2 separate regions of the Homo sapiens genome follow, and region 2 is linked to region 1. Evidence: fine-mapped expression QTL. A gene starts in region 1. The other region holds a variant in brackets. All regions are shown on one strand. Distances are between the middles of the regions. Region 1 holds the start of ADGRE1 (adhesion G protein-coupled receptor E1). Region 2 overlaps ADGRE1 (adhesion G protein-coupled receptor E1).

Region 1 (5,525 bases):
ATCGTCAATTTTGGAAAAATTGGATTCATCAGATAAATTTTCAGCCAACAACTGTTTGAGAATGATAGTAACATCATGCGTAGGAATGCTACACTTTTCTAGGATCTGACATTTTCAGCAATCAAGAATTACTGTATTTTGTAAAATATACTATAGTATATAGTAAAAAATACCATATTTTGTAAAATATAGTAATCTGGAAATATCCCTACTAAAAACAGAACACTATAAATAGAATCATGTCTTTTGTTTTCAAAGTTGATACACTAGAGCAATGCAAAAATAATAATAAAGGTGAGATATTTCACGGCAAAGTTATCTCTGGGTAAATGCTGCAGCCACAAGCGCCACCAGCTAGTATTCTTGGGGCCAACGGGGAAAGAATGAAGGCACAAACAGAAAGCCACTGATGAATCTGGCTAGACGCGGTGTCTCAGGCCTGTAATCCCAACACTTTGGGAGGCCAAGGTGGGAGGATCACCTGAGGTCGGGAGTTCCAGACCAGCCTGGCCAACATGGTGAAACCTCGTCTCTACTAAAAATACAAAAGTTAGCTGGGCATGGTAATACACGCCTGTAATCCCAGAAACTACTCGGGAGGCGGAGGTTGCAGTAAGCCAAGATCACGCCACTGCACTCCAGCCTGGGTGACAGAGCGAGAGTCCATCTCAGAAAAAAAAATAAAATAAAATAAAAAAAGAAAGCCATTGGTGAATCTTTGTTCCAGTGACAATAACTCCAAAGCTGGTAGTTTGCTTTGCAAAGAACAAAAGGGGAAGGCAAAAACACGTGGAGCTTTTCTTTCTAAGAATTCGGGGATGTTCTATGCACCTCCTTTGTACCTTGTGACAGCTGCTATCAGTGGCTGCCCACACCCATAACCTAACAACACATTAATATGCCCTAGCTTAACGCTGATACGGGAGCTAGAAAGAAGTTATTTAGGCAGAGAGTGAGGGCAAGAGAGTCCTCGGTAAGGTTTGCCTTTTAATAAAAAGCAGCCCCCAAATCATTTATTTTATTTTATTTTTTTTTTTTTGAGACAGAGTCTTGCTCTGTCGCTCAGGCTGGAGTACAGCGGCACAATCTCGGCTCACTGCAAGCTCCGCCTCCCGGATTCAAGCAATTCTCCTGCCTCAGCCTCCCGAGTAGCTGGGATTACAGGCGCATGCCACCATGCCCGGCTAATTTTTGTATTTTTAGTGGAGACGGGGTTTCACCATGTTGGTCAGGCTGGTCTCAAACTCCTGACCTTGTGATCCACCCGCCTCGGCCTCCCAAAGCGCTGGAATTACAGGCGTGAGCCACCGCGCCCGGCCAAATAATTTCTTTTCTAAAAAAGAGCAGTCTGAAAAATCAGCCGGCAGACATAGAAAAGCAAGCTGGAAGCTTGCTCGGGTGAATGCCGGCAGCTGTGCCAATGGGAATAGGCTACCTGGGTGCCAGGCGTGTTCAACATGCAGGCTTGCTCCATGTTCCCTTTTCTTTATCAACCACGTGTACGGTAAAGGAACAGGCAACATGGTCCTGGCCAGGTAGAGACCCCATCTGCATAATAAAATATTAGGGTGGGCAGCCAGCTTCTTTGTACTCTATGTAAACGGCACACCTGGTCCAACTAATCTTTGGGCCCTTATGTAAATCAGATATCACCACCTAAAGCTCATCTATAAAACCCCGTGCATTTCACCATGAAACTGGAAGACCCACTTGGGAGCCCCCTCTCTTTGCAGGAGAGAGAGCTTTTCTCTTTCTCTCGCCTATTAAATTTCTTTTCTTTCTTTCTTTTTTTTTTTTTTTTTGAGATGGAGTCTTGCTCTGTCACCCAGGCTGGAGTTCAATGGCACAATCTCGGCTCACTGCAACCTCTGCTTCCCGGGTTCAAGCGATTCTCTTGCCTCAGCCTCCTGAGTAGCTGGAATTACAGGCATGAGCCACCACACCTGGCTAATTTTTGTATTTTTAGTAGAGATGGGGTTTCACTATGTTGCCCAGGCTGGTCTCAAACTCCTGATCTTAGGTGATCCACCCGTCTCAGCCTCCCAAAGTGCTGGGATTACAGGCATGAGCCACTGTGCTCGGCCTAAACCTCTGCTCTAAAAGTAATTTTTTGTGTGTCTGCATTTTATTTTATTTTATTTTATTTTATTTTATTTTATTTTATTTTATTTTATTTTAAGACAGAGTCCCACTCTGTTGCCTAGGCTGGAGTGCAGTGGCACGATCTCGGCTCACTGCAGCCTCCGCCTCCTGGGTTCAAGCAATTCTCTGCCTCAGCCTCCGGAGTAGCTGGGATTACAGGTGCCTAACACCATACCACACTGGCTGATTTTTTGTATTTTTAGTAAAGACGGGGTTTCCCCATCTTGGCCAGGCTGGTCTTGAACTCCTGACCTCGTAATCCACCCTCCTCAGTCTCCCAAAGTGCTGAGATTACAGGTGTGAGCCACGGTGCCCGGCCATGTCTGTATTTTCTATTTCCTTGGTGTGAGGCAATGAACCTCGGGTATTACCCCAGATGGATGACACTGCTTCAATATCTGCCAGTCACTACACTTTGTTATCAGTGGGATTACATCAACTGGAGCCCATTCTATCTGCTTGGAGGCCAGGCCTGAAGATTCAAGGGGTTGACACCCTCTAGGAGCAAGCCTCAAGTCAACCCATGACTGACAGTAGGTGGGATATAAATACCTCAGCTCCCTCACCCCTCGGTTGGAATAACTGAAGAGTATGTTCCATGCCGCTCCCCAGTCATCCCTGGGGAGGTTAAGTTCCACTTTCTCACCATGTAACTTATTTGAAGACACACCCAGTATTGGCTCTTTGCCTTTCCTGATTCACTTTCTCCTCCCCCAGCTGGTGCTTTCTGGGGCCACCTTCTTGATAAACTACTTTTGCTAGAATCCTTGTCTGAGGGTCTGCCCTTGTGAGACCCTAAGATGTTACCAGAGAGAGTTAGGAAGCTGGGAATGGGGTGGAAGTGTTGCTGTATAATCGTCAGACAGAGTTGAGATCTGAAGGAAAATAAGATGGTTAAAGCTCTTGACTCTGGAATCAGAGGGTCCTGGGTTCAAATCTCAAGTCTGAGAGATCTTGGACAAGTTATAACTCCTCTGCAAGTCTCAGTTTCCATTTTGTTGGTGAATAGAGGGAGGGAGGGGAATTCCTACTTTACAAGGTTAACATGATAATGAAATTACACTTTGTTGCCAATGTGCCTAGCACACTGCCTGGTACATGATGGTTGTGATGGCTGTCTTTATACGGGAGACTGGGAAGAGACCCTAAAGGCTGAGATTTGCTTCACTGGAGGCAGGAAGCGGAAGCTCCTTTATTGGGTGCAATGAAAGAAGGTGTTGAGAGATGGGAGATAGATGTTGATGGGAAAGAAAAAGGGAGAGACCATGGGAAGGAGAGAGAGAGAGAATGATATACATTAGGCAGATTAACTTCTCTTTATTGTGAAGAAAGGGGGAAATTAGGATTTTCTAGGCTGTCTTTTAGTTGCAGCAAGTCAGCAAAAAGGGCTATGATGACCAGGCAGCATTGAGCAACTCTGACTCCGCCTTCCCCTCTTCGCACACCTTCTGGTTACTGAAAACCCAGCGTTAGTAGAAAAGTTTCTTTTCTTTGAATGACAGAACTACAGCATAATGCGTGGCTTCAACCTGCTCCTCTTCTGGGGTGAGTGTGAGGCTGAATGGGGGGCTAGGGGAGGCCTGGATTGGAAATAGACTTCAGGAGAAATGGGAGGGCCATGGATGGTCCAGCCAAGAGATCATAAGTCCAGACTGGATGCTGCAAACACCTTCATTCAGGGAACCTTTGACAAAATTCCATAGCTCAGGGAAGTCCATCTGTTAGGATAGATTTTTCTCTATAGTCATTCATTTGACCTGAGCAAGTCCTGTGTGTCAGGTGCTGTTCTAGGCACTAGAGGATATAGCAGTGAGAAAAAAAGACTAAGTTCCTGCACTCTTGAGGCTGATATTCTAGTGGGTAGGAGCAGACAGGAAAGAAGGCACAGATGATCATAGCCCACTTAGCACTGCTGTAACTTCTTTAAACATAGAGTGTATCCAATTGTCACAACATTTCTATGACATTGGGTCATTATTAGTCCTATTTTGCAAATGAGAAAACTGAGGCAAAAGAGATAAAATAATTTTCCCAAGGCCACTTAGTCAATAAGGGGTAGAGGCAGGATTTCAAGCCAGACAGTCTGACTTCAGAGTCTGTAAGCTTTTCCACTATACTATGTTGCCCCAAAAAATAAGTAAACATAGGAATTTCAGGTAGTGATAAGTGCTATGAAAGAAGTTGTTATAGAATGTGGTCGGGAGTTATGTTGAAGGGAGAAGTCTGGGGTTGAGGAGGGGCAGTTCGAGCTGAGTCCTGAAGGATGAGATAGACCCTTCCTGTGCTCTTATTTCTCTTTCTTCAGGTGTCAGTTTGTCTCAGCCTTGTTTATCTTCTGTGTTTCTGGTTTTTCTTCTATGTCTTGTGTGTTTTGGTCATTGGATCAAATTTAAGAATGGAGGATATTGGGGACATATTCTAAGTAGCAAGTATGGGTTTCCTCTGCTGTTGAAGAGTGGATCTGAATACCCTATTTTACCAAGGAGGAAACTGAGGCACAAAGAGATTAAATAACTTCCTCAAGGCCACGCAATCATTAATTGGTGAAGCCAGATTTTTAAACCTAAGCACTTTGACTTCAGACTTTGTATGCCTAAACAGCATGCTGAATTACCTCTAAAATAATTAATGAATGAGTAGAAGAATTTTTGTTAGTAATAATAGATAGAATTTGGGAGTTTAGATCTGTGGGACTTGTTGACTGGCAGGCTACATTAGAAGAAATAGGTGGCCTGTGGACATCAAATGTAGGCATGCAGAGTTGTTATTTTGGGGTGTTGGCAATGGTATTAACCATTAACACTCCCTATTCTGCCCTGAAGATAATCAGCAAAGAGTTGTGATAATGATAGTGATGATAATGATCATGATGGTGGTGGTTATAATAGTGATGATGAAAATGGTGATGATGATGGTGATGGTGATGATGATGATGATGATAATGGTGATGATAGTGATAATGAAGATGATGGTGATGATGATGGTGTGATAATGACCATGAAGATGGTGATGATGGTGATGATGATAATGGTGATGATAGGGATAATGATGATGATGGTGGTGATGATGGTGTGATAATGACGATGAAGATGGTGATGTTGGTGATTATGGTGGTGATGATGATGATGGTGGTGATGGTGATAATGGTGATGGTGATGATGATAATGGTGATGATGGTGATAATAATGATGATGATGATGGTGATGATGAAGATGATGATGGTGATGATGATAGTGATAATGATGGCGATAATGATGATGGTGCAGGAGACCTAAATGCTGCAGGGCTGCATTGCCTTTAAACACTAAAAAATGGGCAGGGCGCAGTGGCTCACGCTTGTAATCCCAGCACTTTAGGAGGCTGAGGCAGGCAGATCATGAGGT
Region 2 (5,000 bases), 44 kb after region 1:
TGGTAAGCAAATACTACAACAGCCTGGCGAAGTGTGTTCTGAAGGAGGAGCAAGGAGACCTGCGAGATCTGGAATTTCCAGGGACGTGTGCAGCTGAGAGGGTCACTTATTCCCATCAAAAGTTCTCCTTTCCAGGCCGGGCGTGGTGGCTCACGCCTGTAATCCCAGCACTTTGGGAGGCTGAGGCGGGTGGATCACCTGAGGTCAGGAGTTCGAGAACAGTCTGGCCAACTTGGCGAAACCCCATCTCTGCTAAAAATACAAAAAATTAGCTGGGTGTGGTGGCGAGCACTTGTAATCCCAGCTACTTAGGAGGCTGAGGCAGGAGAATCGCTTGAATCCAGGAGACATGGAGGTTGCAGTGAGCCAAATTCATGCCACTGTACTCCAGCCTGGGCAACAGAGTGAAACTCCGTCTCAAAAAAAAAAAAATAAATAAATAAGTTATCGGCCAGGTTGCGGTGGCTCATGCCTGTTATCCCAGCACTTTGAGAGGCCCAGGATCACTTGAGGTCAGGAGTTCAAGACCAGCCTGACCAACATGGAGAAACCCCATCTCTACTAAAAATACAAAATTAGCTGGGTGTGTTGGCACATGCCTGTAATCCCAGCTACTCAGGAGGCTGAGGCAGGAGAGGAGAATTGCTTGAACCAGGGAGGCAGAGGTTGCGGTGAGCCGAGATTGCGCCATTGCACTCCAGCCTAGGCAACAAGAGCAAAACTCCATCTCAAAAAAAAAAAAAAAAAGTTCTCCCTTCCAATCCTTCATTCTTGAGATTTCGAAGTTACAGAGTAATTTCTTTGACTTGGGAATTTTGTTTTTCCTTCTGAAAGGCAAATACCCCTGGGAGGGACCATAATTGTATCCGTCTTGTGCACAGGTCCATGAGTCTCTCTGAAGCAGTGTCATTGTCTGGGGGTAATAATGCCTGAGGTTCGTTGCCTCATGCTAAGGAAATCAAGGACACAGACACACACAAGGAGTGAGTTTAAGAGCAGAGGTTTAATAGGCAAAAGAAAGAGAAAGGAGACTAGCTCTCTGTGTCTTGCAAGAGAGAGGGCCTCCTGAGTGGGACTTCTGGCCCGCAGCAAAGTGCAACAGATTTTAGACTGGCTTGAGGGGGCGGTGTCTGATTTACATAGGGCCCAAAGATTGGTTGGACCCAGTGTGACATTTACGTAGAGCGCGAGGAAGCTGGCCACCCACCCTGATCTTTTATTATGCAAATGGGGTCTTTACTTGGCTGGCACCATGTTGTCTTCTCCTTACTGTCTACATGGTTTACAAAGAAAAGGGAAGACGGAGCTGCCATTTTTTTTTTCTTTTTTTTTAGACGGAGTCTCACTCTGTCACCCACGCTGGAGTGCAGTGGTGCAATCTCGGCTCACTGCAACCTCTGCCTCCTGGGTTCAAGCAATTATTCTGCCTCAGCCTCCCGAATAGCTGGGATTACAGGCACGCACCACCACACCCGGCAATTTTGTATTTTTAATAGAGATGGGTTTTCACCACGTTGGCCAAGCTGGTCTCAAACTCCTGACCTCACGTAGTTTGCCTGCCTCGGCCTCCCCAAGTGCTGGGATTACAGGCATATGCCACTATGACCAGCTAATTTTTGTACTTTTAGTAGAGATGGGGTTTCACCACGTTGACCAGGCTCCTAACCTCAGTTAATCCACCTGCCTCAGCCTCCCAAAGTGCTGGGATTTCAAGCGTGAGTCTCTGCGCCCAGCCAGAGCTGCCATTTTGAACATGCCTATTCCCCAGGTAACCGCTTTCCTATTGGCACAACTGCCAGCATTCACCCATGCAAGCTTCTAGCTTGCCTTTCTATGTCTATAGCTCGATTCTACCGGCTGCTCTCCATTAGAAAAGAAAATGATTTGGGAGCTGCTTTTCATTAAAAGGAAAACCTTACCGAGGACTTCCTTACCCTCACTATCTGCCTAAATAAATCTTTTTTAAATCCTATGTCATCTCCTAGGCACAGATGTTGAATGAAAGAAAAAGTAAAAAGAAATTAGGAGGAATTGTGGGGGAAGGAGTGAGATGACAGAGGGAAATGGTGGATCGAGGCAAAGGGAGGCCAGGGAATGTTAAACACCCATCTCTTTGCCTCCCAACCTCCATCCAGACTTGACAGCCCTGCCAGATGATGATTCTTCTGACTCTCACTCATGGTGGCTCATTCCCTTATGTCTTTTGTCATATTTTTCGAGGATTAAATTTTTTTTTATTTTTAATTTTTGTGGGCACAAAGTAAGTGTATATATTTATGGGGTATATGAAATATTTTCATACAGGCACAGAATACATAATAATCACATCAGAGTCAACGAGGTATCTGTCCCCTCAAGCATTTGTCCTTTGTGTTACACACAATCCAATTATGTTCTTCTGGTTTTTGTTTTGTTTTATTGTTTGGTTTATTTTTATTTTTATTTTGAGACAGAGTCTTGCTCTGTCACCCAGGCTGCAGTGCAATGGCATGATCTCAGCTCATTGCAGTCTCTGCCTCCTGGGTTCAAGCGATTCTCCTGCCTCAGCCTCCCGAGTAGCTGGGATTACAGGTGTGCGCCACCACGCCC[A/G]GCTAATTTTTTGTATTTTTAGTAGAGACGGGATTTCGCCATGTTTTCCAGGCTGGTCTCGAATTCATGACCTCAGGTGACCCACCCGCCTCGACCTCCCAAAGTGCTGGGATTACAGGCATGAGCCACTGTGTCCAGCCTCTCCTGGTTATTTTTAAATCTACAATGCAATTATTATTAACTATAGTCACCCTGTTTTGCTAACAAATACTAGATCTTATTCATTCTTTCTATTTTTTTGTACCCATTAACCATCCCCTCTTCCCTGTTCCCCACCCACCCCTTCACTATCCTTCCCAGCTTCTGGTAACTGCTGTTCTACTCTCTAGCTCCATGAGTTCACCTGTTTTAAATGTTTAGCTCCCACAAAGAACTGAGAACATGTGAAATGTGTCTTTCTGTGCCTAGTTTCATTTGTAATGTTTACTTGACTGATCTAAGTCTTGGGAATGCTTGAAATTATATTCCTCCACAGAGGTTTTGTGCTGATGTCTATCAGATTTTTTTTAATGGGGGGCATGTATTAATTTTCAGGGGTCACCGTAATAAGCTACTGCATGCTGGGTGGCTTAGAACAACAGAGACTTGTTGTTTCACAGTTCTGGAGGCTTGAAGCCTGAAATCAAGGTATTGGCAGGGCCACGCTCCCCATGACAACACGAGGGAGGGTCTGTTCCAGACCCCTCTCCAACAAATTTTCCCATTTGTAAGATCACCGGCCAGGTGCAGTGGCTCATGCCTGTAATCCCAGCATTTTGGGAGGCCGAGGCGGGTGGATCACCTGAAGTCAGGAGTTCGAGACCAGCCTGGCCAACATGGCAAAACCCTGTCTCTACTGAAAAATACAAAAAATGAGCCAGGCGTGGTGGCAGGCACCAATAGTCCCAGCCTCGGGAGGCTGAGGCACAAGAATAACTTGACCCCTGGAGGGAGAGGTTGCAGTGAGCCGAGATAACATCACTGCACTCCAGCCTGGGTGACAGAGGGAGACTGTCTCAAAAAAAAGAAAAAAAAAAAGGAACACTAGTCATATTTCAGTCAGATTAGGGTCTGCCCTAATGAGTTCATCTTAACTTGATTATTTCTGTAAAGATTCTATTTCCAAATAAGGTCTTGGGGCGCCTGGCCCCAACAGACAGCCTCTTAAGCTCGTTAAGAAAATAAAAACAAATCTTCAGAGGCCATAAATTAGACAGCAGTAATGAACCAGAATGCTGTAGCTGCCCTAAGGGTATTTCCTAAAATCAAGAATCTAAAACCTTGGAGATTGAATGGTCATTTGTGGAGTTGGATGGGCAAGCCCTAGGGTCTGAAGAAGGTGTAGAGTCCACCAAATAAAATAAAGACCCCATTCTTATTGAAAGGGTGGACTAGAAAATAAAATTCTGGGCCGGGCGTGGTGGTTTATGCCTGTAATCCCAGCACTTTGGGAGGCTGAGGCAGGCGGATCACGAGGTCAGGAGATCGAGACCATCCTGGCTAACATGGTGAAACCCCGTCTCCACTAAAAATACAAAAAATCAGCCAGGCGTGGTGGTGCACGCCTGTAGTCCCAGCTACTCAGGAGGCTGAGGCAGGAGAATGGCGTGAACCTGGGCGGTGGAGCTTGCAGTGAGCCGAGATGGCGCCACTGCCCTCCAGCCTGGGTGACAGAGCAAGACTTGGTCTCAAAAAATAAAATAAAAATAAATAAATAAATAAATTTAAAAGGCTATCTGTTGGGGTTCCTCCAGCATTTTTGGTGTTTTGTAGCGAGAGGGATTTTCAGAGTGAGATTCCTAAAACTCAAAGTTGATCCTGATGCTCTTCTGTGTGAAACTGTTCTATAGCTTCTCCATTGCACTCAGGGTGATGTCCACTCCCTGAGCCTGACACCTCAGATCCTTCACTGCCTGGCCCTACCCAACTTCCCTAGGGTCCCTTTCTGGCTTTTTCCTGCCTGCTCGGCCCTCTGGCTGTACCAGCCAACTTTCTACTTCCTTGAAATGCCAAGTTCTCCCCTCTAGACCTCTCTCATGGAGGTGGTGGTGATGATGAACAAACCATATGTGTGAGATGCTTAGTACAATGCCAGGCATTGCCAAGAGTGCAGTAAATATTAGGTATGAACAATCATGGAAATAATAATTATGATGATGTTGGCCAGACATGGTGGCTCATGCCTGTAATCCCAGCACTTTGGGAGGCCAAGGCAGGCAGATCACTTCGGGTCAGGAGTCTGAGACCAGCCCGGCCAACATGGTGAAACCCCATCTCTACTGAAAATACAAAATTTAGCCAGGTGTGGTGGCCCGCGCCTGTAATCCCAGCTACTCAGGAGGCTGAGGCAGGAGAATCGCTTGAACCTGGGAGACAGAGGTTACTGTGAGCCGAGGTTGCGCCATTGCACTCCAGCCTGGGAGACAAGAGCG

What was found. PIP is the estimated chance that this variant, and not a neighbour inherited with it, causes the effect. A credible set is the group of variants that fine-mapping cannot tell apart.
Region 2: its variant is the best candidate, but not a certain one, in a credible set for the expression of ADGRE1 in whole blood (TOPMed, PIP 0.56).

Annotation. Positions count from the first base shown.
Region 1 is chr19:6,883,953-6,889,477 of GRCh38, forward strand. ADGRE1 (adhesion G protein-coupled receptor E1) reads left to right here and starts at 3,627. Exons shown (of 21, transcript NM_001974.5): 1 at 3,627-3,687. The coding sequence starts at 3,657. RefSeq lists an enhancer at 3,621-3,680.
Region 2 is chr19:6,928,210-6,933,209 of GRCh38, forward strand. ADGRE1 (adhesion G protein-coupled receptor E1) reads left to right here. Exons shown (of 21, transcript NM_001974.5): 17 at 1-2. All of the region lies in intron 1 of LOC105372256 (a long non-coding RNA gene), which reads right to left. Among named protein-coding and RNA genes, the nearest start is that of ADGRE1, 43 kb to the left of the region's middle. The variant A/G (reference allele first, on the strand shown) is at 2,590.